Homo sapiens: one gene and its partner. The protein of the gene in region 1 interacts with the protein of each later gene in a biochemical or structural test. Each region holds a gene or a part of one and is shown in the gene's direction. Other genes may lie near its edges.

What was found. The genes of interacting proteins can lie anywhere in the genome.
Region 2: the proteins of FIZ1 (region 1) and NRL form a complex in vitro, tested with the Homo sapiens proteins (one study listed by BioGRID).

What each region holds. Positions count from the first base shown.
Region 1 is NC_000019.10:55,593,686-55,596,665, reverse strand, and holds part of FIZ1 (flt3-interacting zinc finger protein 1), read left to right. Parts: exon of another isoform or gene 1-770; coding exon of another isoform or gene 771-1,046; intron 1,047-2,980. UniProt on the Homo sapiens protein: May be a transcriptional repressor of NRL function in photoreceptors. Does not repress CRX-mediated transactivation.
Region 2 is NC_000014.9:24,078,046-24,081,098, reverse strand, and holds the end of NRL (neural retina-specific leucine zipper protein), read left to right. Parts: 3' UTR 1-2,437; downstream 2,438-3,053. UniProt on the Homo sapiens protein: Acts as a transcriptional activator which regulates the expression of several rod-specific genes, including RHO and PDE6B. Also functions as a transcriptional coactivator, stimulating transcription mediated by the transcription factor CRX and NR2E3.

The sequences.
Region 1 (2,980 bases):
CAAATCAATGTGTGAGAGTAAAGAGAGGAGAGCTATGGGCTACTTCAGACAGGTGGGGAAGGTTAGGGCAGGTGATACCTGAGCCAACCTGCAGTGTGAGGAATCCTCCCTGGGAAGAGCATTCCAGGCAGCAGGAACAGCAAGTGCAAAGGCCCTGAGGAAGGAAGGAGTGTGCTGTGTTCCAGGAAGCGATGGGAGACTGTGGGGTTGGGGTGGAAGGAGGTAAGGTGAAAGATGGGACGGGCTAGGTCACACTCTGTCTATGTGCCAGACACTTGCACAACCAGGGTGAAGAAAACCAGGCATCTACCGATGGTCTTTCACACTTGGCTGTCCTCTCTGTCCCCATGCATCTGCCTTGGTTCAGGACTTCACATCCTGAATGTTGGCCCCGGCTTTCTCAGTGGTCTCCCTCCTTCCTGTCTCTCTCCCTCACATCCAGTCTCTGCATCTATCACAGAGTGACCAGGTGACCCCTGCTTAAATCCCTTGATCCTTAGGATGAAAGGGGAGCTCCTTAGCTTGATGCAACAATTGACAGTCCCCTGAGGGGCCTCACCCCCACCCACCAGTAGGTTGTGATTCAACTGAACCATTTCAGGAGCACCTACTGTATTTAGATACAGTGCTAGGCTCTCTGGGGGAAAAAAAATAGCTAAGGGAACAAAACAGATACAGTCCACCCTTTGTATGGCCTCGAGTCAAATGTGGGAGATGTGAACTGAACAACTAGGTTAATCAATGTTAGGCTGCAGCCGAGACATCTGAGGATGGAGGATAACCATATTCTGAGGCTAATGCAAGAGAGAGCTGAAGCAGTCTGGATCGGGGATGGGGTCAGGGATGGTTTTCCCGAGAAAAAGGTGAGGAATGATCTGCCTCTGGGGTCCGAGGCTTTCCGGATCCAGGGAACAAAATGTGTACTTTCAAGGAAGCAAAGCAGGCTTTGGAGGAACTGGAGGAAGGCCAATGTGACTGGAGCATGGAGAAGCAGAAAGTGTGGCTCAGGAGAAGTCTGGAGAGTGCCGGACCCTGGAAATACAGCTGTGAGCAAAACCAATGTGGTCACTATTTTTATCGTCCTTAGCTGGTGGGGAGACAGACAACACTCAAGTTATATGTAGACACTAAGTGTGCTATGAGCCATAGGCTTTAAAGAAGGAGGGTGGAAGAGGATCACTGATGAGCCAGGGGGCCAGATTCCGGGAAGGGTTTCCAAGGAGCTGACAGATAAATAGACCTACGGGCATTCCAGGCAGTGAGAACAGCATGTACAAGGGCCCTGGGACCAGCATAATCTTGTTGTGTTAAAAGAGTAGAGAGAGAATAAATTTAGTGACAAAGAGGATAGAGATCCCTACACCCACACTGTACAGCAGGTGCATCGAGTCTGGAGCCAGAAAGGCAAATGAACATCACTCCCTGTTCCTTCTTCAGATCTGTGCCCCTGGCAGACATTACTAATCAAGCACTGCACTCTTTCTCATCCAGCCTCACCCTTCTCCTCACAGGCCTCCAGGAAGACATTACCATACTCACAAATCTCTCTCTGTTATTCCAAAATCTTAAATCAACAAGGACAAATATCAATACAAAAAACCTCTCTAAGGCACGGTTTTACACAGTCTACAAGCCTGGCAATGCCTCAGAAAAAAATACAGATTCCTGGACTCCCTCCTGGGAGATTCGATTCCCTAGACTTGGAAGTGATTCCCTGGATCTGTATGTGTGAAAAGCGTTCAGTGGGAGAAACTCTGAGCAGTAGCCGGATTCGGTTCAAAATCACTTCTCTGCCCTAACACACCTAAGGCCTGTATTCAGCTCATGATAACTGGCTCGGGATAGCAGGGCTTGACAAGGGAGAAGACACACCCTGCTAGGGCTGGCTGCTGTGTCACTTTAGAGCTGCACTGTCCAGTATAGCCATTAGCCACCGATAGTGATTTCTTTTTTTTTTTTTTTTTTTTTTGAGACAGAGTCTCGCTCTGTCGCCCAGACTGGAGTGCAGTGGCGCGATCTCGGCTCACTGCAAGCTCCGCCTCCCGGGTTCATGCCATTCTCCCGCCTCAGCCTCCTGAGTAGCTGGGACTACAGGCGCCCGCCACCACGCCCGGCTAATTTTTTGAATTTTTAGTAGAGACGGGGTTTCACCGTGTTAGCCAGGATGGTCTCGATCTCCTGACCTCATGATCCGCCCGCCTCGGCCTCCCAAAGTGCTAGGATTACAGGCGTGAGCCACCGCACCCGGGCTTTTTTTTTTTTTTTTTGAGACAGAGTCTCGCTCTGTCACCCAGGCTAGAGTGCAGTGGCACGTCTTTGGCTCACTGCATCCTCCACCTCCCGGGTTCAAGTGATTCTTCTACCTCAGCCTCCTGAGTGGCTGGGACTACAGGTCCCTGGGACTACCCGCCACCAGGCCCGGGTAATTTTTGTATTTTTAGTAAAGGCAGGGTTTCACCATGTTGATCAGGTTGGTCTCGAACTCTTGACCTCAAATGATCCACCCACTTCAGCCTCCCAAAGTGCTGGGATTACACACGTGAGCCACCGCACCCAGTCGTGTTTTTTTGTTTTTTTTGAGACACAGTCTCACCCTGTCATGCAGGCTGTAATGTGGTGGCATGGTCACGGCTTACTGCAGCCTCAAACTTCTTGGCTCAGCCTCCCAGGTAGCTGGGACCACAGGAGTGTGCCGTGTCCAGCTAGTTTTTAAAATTATTTGTAGAGACAAGGTTTCCCTGTGTTGCCTGGGCTGGTCTCAAACACCTAGGCTTATGCAATCCCAGAGTGCTGGGATTACAGGCGTGAGCCACCATGGCCAGCCAGGACATGGCCTTTTTAAGGACCGAAAGAATCTACCGTGACCCCAAACAGAGAGTGATAGGACGAGCGTTTCCCTAGATCATGGCCCTGTAGGTGTGACAGAGAGCTTGTGCCACAACCCTCTGGGAGTCCAGGAATCCGTTGTCCGGGCTAGGTT
Region 2 (3,053 bases), on another chromosome or scaffold:
CAAAGCTTTTGGGTCCTCAAGTCATGCCCGAATTTAGATGCTGGTCATTTTCTGGAGAGGGGTCCCCTCCCCTTACGAACACAGAAACCCAGCCCACATGACTAGCACGCTGAGCTCTGCAGGGACCAGTGCCAGGCACTGGGGGGTGGAAGTGTGGTGACACAGTGAATGGGAGGTGGAGGAGGGTTGCAGCTCCCACCTCAGTTTAGTTTTTAATTCAGGGTTTTCAACCTGTAACACATTAAAGCTGTAATTAGCAATGAGGCTGTATTTTCATTCTGAAGCTTGTAACCTCCCCATTTTAGCACTACAGAATTTTCAAGATTTCAATATCCAACAACTAGATAGATTAGGACCTCTATCCGAGATGCTTTTTCCCTGCCCAACCCTGTGGCCTTCAGGGCTCAGAGCAGCAAAGGCCTGAAGAGTGAGCTCTGGGGGTTGTTGGTGTGGGTTGGGAGAGAGCTGTGTGCAGAAGTCTGGAAACCTGGGTCCTAGTCCCAGCTCTTCCATGGGATCCCCCTGTCACCCTGAGCAAATCAGTTGCTTCCTGGACTTGTGTTACTTCATCTAATTCTCATGTGGATTGGACGACTTCTGCTCCCTTTCCAGTTCTGGCATCTCCCCAGTATGGAAGTCCCGGTGGTCTCCCCAAGAAGTCCCCAAGACAATCTCGCCAAAGGCACCTCCTATCCTGCTGCAGTTTCCCAGCTGCAGCCTAGGCAGGGGATGCACAGCCCAGGCGAGGAAGCCTGGCTTCTCTGTGAGCACATACGTGGGTCCTCGGCAGCTCCCTCCAGGCTGTCTGGGCCTCCAGACCTGCACAGGGTGCTCCTGCCACCTCCCACCTCTCTGAGGGCTGAGGTGAGACTTCTCCTGGGATGACAATTTGCTGAGAGAGTGCAGCTTTTGTGAATTAAACTTGAAGTCCAGGCAGAATTCTAATGCAATAAGCTAAATGTTCTTGCAATTTAAGAAGTGTTCATTCTTTATCCCTGCTTCAGGCTACTGTTTGTGTGTCTGTGTGTGGGAGAGGGAGAGAGAGGGAGAGAGAGAGAGAGCAAGAAAAAGGGAAGTCCCCACCTGGAGCTGGGTGGCACATCTGTTATGGAGAGCCAATGGAAATGGGGTGGAGGGGCAGGCATTGGAACAGATGGATCCTCCCCCTCTCACCACCACCACCACCAAACTCAGAAGCCTCAGTGGCCCAGCTCGGCCTGTCAGTGGCTATCCAGGTCTCACAGTTTCCATGGTAACCCAGTCCTCCAGTTCAGCAGGCTAAGGGGAGGGCAGATGGGGCCTCTGGGCAGAGCACAGGCGTTGTGCTGGGAGCAGCCGCCTCACGAGTTACTGTCATCTGTCCTCTACCGGACATAATAAATGGGAGAAGCTTTCGGGCATGGGGGAAGAGGCTCCCATATGTCCCTCTTCCTTTCTACCCCCTCTCTCCACCCCCTCCCCAGCTGTCTCTTCTCTTCCCATCACAGTTCTTGCTCCCTCTTTCCCCTCCTCTATCCCAGCTCATCCCTCCTCCGCTTAGGAGCCTGCAATGGGAGTCCTCTCCTCCATCGCTCTCAGAATTTCTCTCGTCTCCTCTCCCTTCCCCACCATTGGCCACTGGCCATCCTCTCTGGCTCTGGATTCTCTCTCTGAGGGGCTCACAGAACCTTTAGCTTCTCTTTCTTCATCCCCTTCCACACTCATTGTTGAAGGGAGAGGATGGGGCAGGGAGGGTCCTTCCGGGAGCCCAGCTCTTTTTCTCTCACTCTAAATTTCACCTGTGTCTATCCTTGCCTGCCCTGGAGCTGTAATTCAGACCCACTACTTTTCTTGTTCACTTTTCTCACCTGCATGGCACACAAAGACAGACAGAACCATCCATAGACACCTGAGCACACAACTAGGCCACATATACAGTACCATACCTGGGTCTCAAAATGATACTCCTGGGTTACCTGAGTATACTTAAAAAAACAAAGTTGCACACTGTGGTGATTAAGAGTAGTGCTTTAGGTGGGGCGCAGTGGTTCCTGCCTGTAATCCCAACACTTTGGGAGGCCAAGGAGGAAGTTTGAGACCAGCCTGGGCAACATAGCGAGAACCCTGTCACTACAAAAAAATAAAATAAAATAAATTCAGATGTAATGGCATGCACCTGGAGTCCCACCTACCCAGGAGGCTAAGGTGGAAGGATAACTTGAGCCCAGGAGTTCGGGGATGCAGTGAGCCATAATCGTGCCACTGCATTCCAGCCTGGGTGGCAGAGTGAGACCCTGTTTCAAGTTGCAGTTCTACCAGTTTTTTGACCATGGGTGGGTTAAAATCAAGCCTCACTTGATTGTCAGAAAAATGGTGAAAATAATGGTAACCACCTACTGAGAATAAATGCATTTAAATAAGCACTTAGCATAAAGTTGACACATGCTACGTAATGATATTTGCTGTTGTTGCTGATGTGATTGTTAAGTGTGTGAATCTGTGTGTTCATGCACTGCACATCCCTGAGTCCATGAGTGTGACCCATTAAGGCCATGAACAGACACACACATTGACACACCCGGGAAACCAGACTGTATAGGCCTTAGATGCTCCACTATGTTCCCAATTCACTAGCAGACCTGCTGCCCTCCTTCAGTATCCCCCAGCACCTGCTCTTGGCCCGCCCCACAGCTGTGTGGGGGCTGGGGTTCAGCTCCTGGGGGACTCAGCAGGGCCTCTCTGGAGACAGCTATAAGAAAGCTTCAGCCTGCCCTCCTGACAGCCCGTAATTATCCTCCTATCTCCTGTAATTATTCTCCATGGTGCCTAGACCCCCTGGGGTTGGGAGGTGAGGGAGGGGGCTCCTCAGATCCCACTGGCACATAGCTGGGGTAAGACTGCAGAGACAGCAGCCTGCCTGGGGAGCTCTGTCTCAGATTTTGAAAGGTGCTGGTCCTCATTTCTTATGGTGTGTGTGGGGGTGCTGCAGGCTGCCCAGTGGGCATCTGAGGCATGATGGTTAGAGGCTGAGGTGCTAGGAGCAGTTCTCTTTATTAATGGCTAGAAAGTCAGGA